Linked DNA regions of Homo sapiens. The protein of the gene in region 1 purifies or fractionates together with the protein of each later gene. This does not show direct contact. Each region holds a gene or a part of one and is shown on either strand. Other genes may lie near its edges.

What was found. Proteins that work in one complex are often made in the same cells at the same time.
Region 2: the proteins of SETDB2 (region 1) and HEPHL1 purify together in Homo sapiens (affinity purification with mass spectrometry; 2 studies listed by BioGRID and IntAct, with this or other methods). This does not show direct contact.

Annotation. Positions count from the first base shown.
Region 1 is NC_000013.11:49,482,176-49,485,929, reverse strand, and holds part of SETDB2 (histone-lysine N-methyltransferase SETDB2), read right to left. Parts: exon of another isoform or gene 3,734-3,754; intron 3,194-3,733; coding exon 2,968-3,193; intron 2,467-2,967; coding exon 2,367-2,466; intron 301-2,366; coding exon 207-300; coding exon of another isoform or gene 136-206; exon of another isoform or gene 85-135; intron 1-84. Other genes in the region: SETDB2-PHF11 protein, read right to left, coding at 207-300, 2,367-2,466, 2,968-3,193. UniProt on the Homo sapiens protein: Histone methyltransferase involved in left-right axis specification in early development and mitosis. Specifically trimethylates 'Lys-9' of histone H3 (H3K9me3).
Region 2 is NC_000011.10:94,066,292-94,070,045, forward strand, and holds part of HEPHL1 (ferroxidase HEPHL1 precursor), read left to right. Parts: intron 1-679; exon of another isoform or gene 680-1,004; intron 1,005-1,143; exon of another isoform or gene 1,144-1,204; coding exon 1,205-1,459; intron 1,460-3,754. UniProt on the Homo sapiens protein: Is a copper-binding glycoprotein with ferroxidase activity. It oxidizes Fe(2+) to Fe(3+) without releasing radical oxygen species. May be involved in the regulation of intracellular iron content.

The DNA of each region.
Region 1 (3,754 bases):
TAGCTCACATGCCATACTGAACAGGTAGAGGGCCAGATTTGGCCCACACACGATATTTTGCTGATCTCTTATGTAGACAAGTTGTAACCTTTCTGACAAATGCAGCATGTTTATTATGGAATCTAAGAAAATGAGCTACAGGTATTGAGCAAGAGACAGAGAAACAGGCAGAAGAGGTAGGCATTCACAGAAGAAACAAAGCCTACTTTGTGCTCCCTTGGTTTTAGAGTTCAGATGCTCTCGGGGTGGTTTAAATCCATCATTATCTTCTGGAGTGACAGACTCCGAGGAAACAAATTCCTTAAAAAAACAAGGAAGATGTCTTTACTTTCCAGGTCAGGCAAAAGTATTTAGCAGTTAGGCCTCTTTCATCAAGTGTCAATCATCATAGGCTATATGTACTAGATTCGTTTTGAAAAGCCTCAAAGCTGATATCATAAGGAGTCTTTAGACTAATGGAGTCAACAAGTGTCATCCCCTTTGACTCTGTTCTACTTCTAGGTGCTTTATTAAGCCACAGCTATAAAGACTGTCAAGAAATTCTTTGGGAATTAAAATCTTAATGCATCCCTGTCTGTATCCCCCAATTCTAATCATCTCAGTACTTAGAAAGTGTTATTACTAGATTATAAATTTGCCTTCAACTGTAAGTTGTGTAAAGATGAAAAACACTCATTGGCTAGTTTCTACTTCAAAGAAAGGTTAACGAATGTGATAATGCTTACACATTGTAGACACTGCAGTCACTTTAAGTAGTAATGATAACTTTAAAAGAGGCGTATATACTCAGCACAATGCTTGGCAACCAACTAAGTATTCAATACACATTGACCATATTATTACTATGAAAGTTCTCAGCATGTGAATGGTCAACATGTATTGAGCACTTAGTTGGATGCTAAGCAAGTTGCTGATGCTTATCTCATTTAATCCTCATAATTCTGAAACATATACTATTACCTTTTTACAGATAAAAGAAATGTATGTATGGAGATACCACCCAGCTAGCACGCAGCAGAGCTGGAGGTTACACCTGGGTCTGTGTGACACCATGGCCAATCTTTTCATAATTCTCTGACCTTAAGGAGGTAGCTACTGTACCATTACCAGGCAGAGGGCAAATATTTGCATAACACCTAAAGCAGAGTTTTTACTCTTCATCAACAAGCCCTAAAGTAAGCTACCATTATGTCTCTCTTTGTTCTCTTTTCTCTTTCTCTGCTTCTACGTTTCAGTCTCTGACTAATCTTTAGTTCACAATGCAAAGGGTACCCTCAGAGGCTACCACATAAAATACTGTTTTCTGGATGATTCTTTCATAAAATTGCATCTCTTCTTTCTCATACATCTTAAAACCTTCAGCCAGGCGCAGTGGCTCACGCCTCTAATCCCAGCACTTCGGGAGGCCAAAGTGGGTGGATCACCTGAGGTCAGGAGTTTGAGACCAGCTGGCCAACATCATGAAACCCCGTCTCTACTAAAAATACAAAAAAGTAGCTGGGCATGGTGGCAGGCACCTGTAATCCCAGCTACTCATGAGGCTGAAGCAGGGGAATCGCTTGAACCCAGGAGGCAGAGGTTGCAATAAGCTGAGATCGTGCCATTGCACTCCAGCCTGGGCAACAAGAGTGAAACTCCATCTCAAAACAAAACAAAACAAAAAACAAAAACCTTGTTCTCCTTCACCTAAATTACTTTGTCCCTTTTCTTATATATCACTATTAACTCCTGAAGACTTTAGCTTCTCCCACAAACTCTCAGAATGGGATACCTCTCGGTCTCAGTGGAGCACACTGTCAGATCATGACCAGCATTCTCCTCATACAGCCAAGCTGGAAACATGTCAACTGCCGTGGATGATACTAAGTAAACAGAACATGGTCCTAGCATTTCCACCGTCCACCATTCCAAAACAATAAAAGAAATTCTACACACTATAAAGTAACACAAACATTTTGAGCTAAGTAAAGGATAGGAAGGCAATAGTTTACATCTCAGAAGGGCCCCAGCAGCTGGGTGCGGTGGCTCATGCCTATAATCCCAGAACTTTGGGAGGCTGAGGCACAACAGCTGCTAGAGCTCAGGAGTTGGAGACCAGCCTGGGCAATATAGTGAGACCCCATCTCTACTAAATAAGAGCTGGGCATGGTGGTGTGCACCTGTAGTCCCAGCCATTCGGGAGGCTGAGGGAGGAGGATACTCGAGCCCAGGAGATTGTGGCTGCAGTGAGCTGTGACTGTGCCACCACACTCCAGCCTGGGTGACAGAGTGAGACTCTGCGTCAAAAAAAAAAAAAAAAAAAAAAAAAAAAAAAAAAAAATTTAAAAAAGAAAAGAAGGGTCCCAACTACATTTTGCATTTTTTACCATTTTTTTCCCATTGTGTTGAAAAATGGCTGTCTTGGATTCAGGATCTCTAATAACTGAATGATATTGAATTCTTGAAATATTATCATATTTCGTTTCCCTAAAAAGGAAAAAAAAGTTATTCTGTATCACTAAAAATTCTCTTCATTCTCTTTACTCAAGTACAGATAATATCCATTATTACATAAATATCCTTAATTATTATAAATTAACCTAAGTAAGAACATCTATGTTTATTCCTTTCCCTAGAGAAAGGAAATATAATCATAAATAATTTTTGAAGTACATTTGGAAAAGGAAGAGAACCTATGAAAACTTTGCAGATAAAATGATAGAAAATTTTAAAAAACAGCAAAACTTATGACATCCATAAAAAACCTGACTAAAGTCATATAAGGTAAAATTCCAAAACTGGAACACTGAGGATGGTATATTGGCTAGATTTTTACATGTCCTGGATTTCTCAAAGTGTTAGACTTAACAACTTTGAAGCAAAATGATAAATACAAATGAGGAGAAAAGAAAGAGGGGAAGGAATGAAAAAGAACCAATTGATTGATAATAATTTAGATTTACTCTGGGTTCCTCAGCTGTTACTTACACAGTAAGCTCCTTGGGATTATTACTGAACTTTGGTGGACATTTCTCAGTTTTAGCAGTTCTAGGATGTGTTTCCAATCCTAATGGGAGAACTTCAACTTCACAATCTGAACATGCAACTTCTAATTTCCTCTTTTTTGAAAATATATTTTTCATAGTATTCTCATCTCTCCCGTTTTCATCAATACCATAAGATTTTTCAGTGTTAGCTCTGCTTAGTAATCTTCCTAAAAGGAAAATGTTAAAGAGTTTGAACAACACAGAAGATAATTGCTAATGATAAACAGACATCTCTATTTCTACTCCATGACTAAAGAACCCACACATTCTACAATGAAGATAAACACATTAACTCATCCTACAAAACTGTTGCAAGACAAAGACCAATGTGATATTTCTTATCTTCCAGTATATGAAAAAACAGGGTATCTAAAAAAAAACCATTTGTCTGTTTTGGTATAATACAAAAGAGAAGAGATTTAGCTAGAATGATACAAAAAGATATGGATGAGAAAGTACTCTAGAAAATTAGAGAGATGACTCTAGCCATAAAATTGTAGCTTTTATGTCTAGTTAAAAAGGCGTTATCATCTGAAACTTAAAATTTTTAACAAAAGTACCTATTTAAATATGTGGTGATATGTTCTTAGTGTTGTCATATTAAGTTCTGCATAACACTAAAATCTTGGTCTAAAGTTCATGCATTTTCTTTCAAGGGATTCAATATTATAGTTGCCAAGTCCAAATTAATAGCAGGATATTCTTACCCATTGTTAGATCGGAGACAT
Region 2 (3,754 bases), on another chromosome or scaffold:
CGCCTGTAATCCCAGCACTTTGGGAGGCCAAGGTGGGAGGATCACTTGAGGCCAGGAGTTCAAGACCAGCCTGGCCAACATGGCAAAACCTGTCTCTACTAAAAATACAAAAATTAGCTGGTCATGGTGGTGGGCACCTGTAATCTCAGCTACTGGGGAGGCTGAGGCACAAGAATCTTTTGAACCCAGGAGACAGAGGTTGCAGTGAGCTGAGATTGTGCCACTGCACTTCAGCCTGGGTGTGACAGAGCGAGACTCCATCTCAAAAGAAAAAAAAGAGAGAGAGACTGGAAAAAGAGACCTAATCAAGTAAAGGAAAAAATTTAATTAAAAAAATCTAGACTATGGAAGATAATTAATATGTACAAGTTTTATTGATCAATTTATTTAAATTTACTAAAATAATTTAGAATTAATTGTGCTGCCTAAGTCATCAGGCATTTCAGCAACAATTGCTTTTAACTCAGTTCGAACTTAAGAAGGGATATTGTGACTTTTTAAAGCCCTGAATCAAGTTCTTTTCTGAACTTGGTCAACTCCCAGCTGCCATTTAGATGGTTTTAAAGTATTCGGTCCTGGATTTACGCCATAAACTTAATAAGATTCTGCTCCAGCAACATGTAGTAAAAACTGTTTTTCTCTTGGCTTTTTAAAGTAAACAAACAAACAAACAAAACAGTTCTCATAAATTCCTTTTAATCAATTCCTTTTCTTTCCATCTTACTACATGCTTTTGTCACTTCATTAAGTAGATACTATGTGCCAGTTTTTCTGCTAGGTCCTGATAACTGTTAAGATGAACAAGACAGGGTTTCTAGTTCCAAGGAGCACAGAATCTGGTGAAGACAGCAGATATGCCAGTGAAGGATTATGACAGAAGGTGACTGAGCCTCCTGTAAATATGAGCAGCACTCTGTTTTCTCCTGACCTCATATTGCGTTCCCACAGCAGCTCCGAGGCTGTTCTCAGTGTATGCTGATCTTCACTTTTATTGAGTGTTTTCTCTGGAAAAAGGCCAATAAAAACATTTCATTTCTCTTTTGGACAATATATATTTCTAAGAGCCAGGTTTTTCTGCACCAAAACCTTACAACCAATGGTCTGCACTGGTTTTCCAGCCATGCTTAAGCCCGTATTACCAACATTTCTGGTCCCAGTCGCCTCTGCAGGGGAGTCTCTTCCACTAGCGTGTTTCTGTTTCCAGCCCTCAATGGATACCTCTTCGGAAACTTCCCGGAGCCTGATATGTGTGTTGGAGAATCTGTGTCCTGGCACCTATTTGGAATGGGGAATGAAATAGACATCCATTCTATCTATTTCTATGGTAACACCTTCATCAGCAGAGGGCATCGGACTGATGTCGTCAACCTGTTCCCAGCCACCTTCCTTACAACAGAAATGATAGCCGAGAATCCTGGGAAGTGGATGATAACCTGCCAGGTCAGCGACCACCTACAAGGTAAAAAGGATAAAGACCAGAGTTGATATGTTTAGAATGGTACAATCAAACCACACAGTCACTAGTGCTCATCCAGTACCTACTGTTAGATAGAGCCTTGTATGTACTATATTTAATTAGGTAATAAATATACAGGAAAATATAACGCTCATCTCTTTGATATTCTATCAACAGATATTTATTGACCACTTCTGTATGAAAAAAGTGGGGAAGTGATTAAAAATTGATGAGACCTTCGAGGAACCTGTAGTATAGTTGTTAGACATAGTTAGACATTCACAAAATGAATACGATTTAAGGCAGAATGAGATAAATGCTCTTTGGGTGTTGCAGTCACTACTCTGGAGCAATCAGAGGGGCTTCCTGAGGAGCTGGCTCCTAACATGAGCCTTGAAATATGAGTAGGAACTGAATAGATGAAGAAGGAAAGAAAGACTTTTGAGGAAGCAGCATGAACTGGGAAAAACACATGTTCTTTTTGAGCAACTGTAAGTAGAGTAATAAGGTTTTAGCACTGGAAAGGACTTTCTGGATAATAAGGACCAATCCCCCCTCGAATTATTTAATTTCGTTTTGAACATCTCTTGTGAGTAGTTATAGCAGCTCATCTCATCTCTGGACTGCTCTATTGGAATGTTCTTCCTCAAATTGAGACAAAATCCATTGACCTATAGCTTCCTTCATGTCCTATGATAGGTGCATGATAAACATTTGTTGGCTTAAATGCCTGTTGAATGACCTGGTCCTGGTTTCTTCAGACATCATACACTATGTCCTTTCTTAGCTGGACCATAATGTTCCTTACAGAGAAGTGATGACAGAAGAGCCTGGGAGGCTCATCAGGCCCCTTAGCAAAGCTAAGGAGGTGGGGCTGTGTGATCCTTAGCTCTTTTGGCACACTAGTGACATAATCGGTGCAGTTATTTAAGAAGATAAATGTATGCATGCAAGAAGGACTTGATGGAGGAATTCTGACCACTGGATGCTAGTTAAGAAGCATTTGACAGTGTTAGAGGTCTAACACCTAAACGTCTGCCCTAAGATGATGAAACCAAGACAGAAAAAATATGTTAATGGAATAGACACAGAAGAAATAATGTCTGATATTTGGATACTAACTTCCCATAGTCACTAATAGGTGCAAAGATCCAGCTGCTCAGGGCTGCTTTTGTAACACATTCTTGTTCCTGTCCACCTTCCACAGTGAGTCATAGCATTAGTCAACTGCAGTATCCCAATTACATTCAACTGAAAAATTAATCAGTTAATATGTACTAGATGCTCTTCTGGGAAAACAAAGATTAACAAGAGAAGGTTTCTATTCTCAAAGAGTCTTATGCTGTTAAATCTGGGAAGAAACTGTAGATTTAAAATCAAGATATTAGCTGCCATTTGAGACTAGTAAGATCGCTAAATTAGCCCGATAGTTGTGGACATAAGCTAGTATTTATACGTTCCCTGAAATACAGTATTTCTAAATTGTCCATGCCTTCAGAAAAAAGTTATTGTAAAAAAATTAGAAAATACATATAATTGGAGGTTTTTTAACAAATAGAGACAGGGTCTTGCTATGTTGCCCAGGCTGGTCTCAAACTCCTGGGCCCAAGCAATCCTCCCACCTTAGCCTTTCAAAGTGCTGGGATTATAGGCATGAGCCACTGGATCTGGCCCCTATAAATTGGTTTTAAAATCAGTAGTTCCATAATAGAAATATTTTATATTCACATTTTGGTGAATATCTTCCCTATTTTCTATTTCTTAATATGTAAATATATATGTATTTTAAAAAATGAAATCAGTCTATTAATGCTGCACTGTAGCTAATTTTTCTCATTTACAAATATATCAGAAACACATTTTCATGTCGGTGAATATAGAGCTTACTTCATCATGGTTAATACTTCCAGTGTCCATTATAAGGAGATTACATCTTGCTTAATCAATACTCTATTGCTTAATGCTTATGTTTCCCACCAATTTTTTTGCTATTATAAACAGCACTGATGACTATTATTTATAGATGTTTGCACTTTTGTCTGAACATTTTCTTAGAAAAACTCCTAGATTTAGAATTTCTGGGTCAAAGAGTATGATTTTTTTAAAAAAGCTATGGACATACATTGCCACATTCTCTTTTGGAAATTGTTATTCTTCTACACGAAGTGTATGAGTATGGCTCTTTCCCCATTCATCTACCAACACTGAGAATTATTAGTCTTTCTAATCTTTACTAATCTGATCAATGAACAATAGTATCATTTGAAAACTGTTAAGGTTTGAGTACTATTTGAGTAC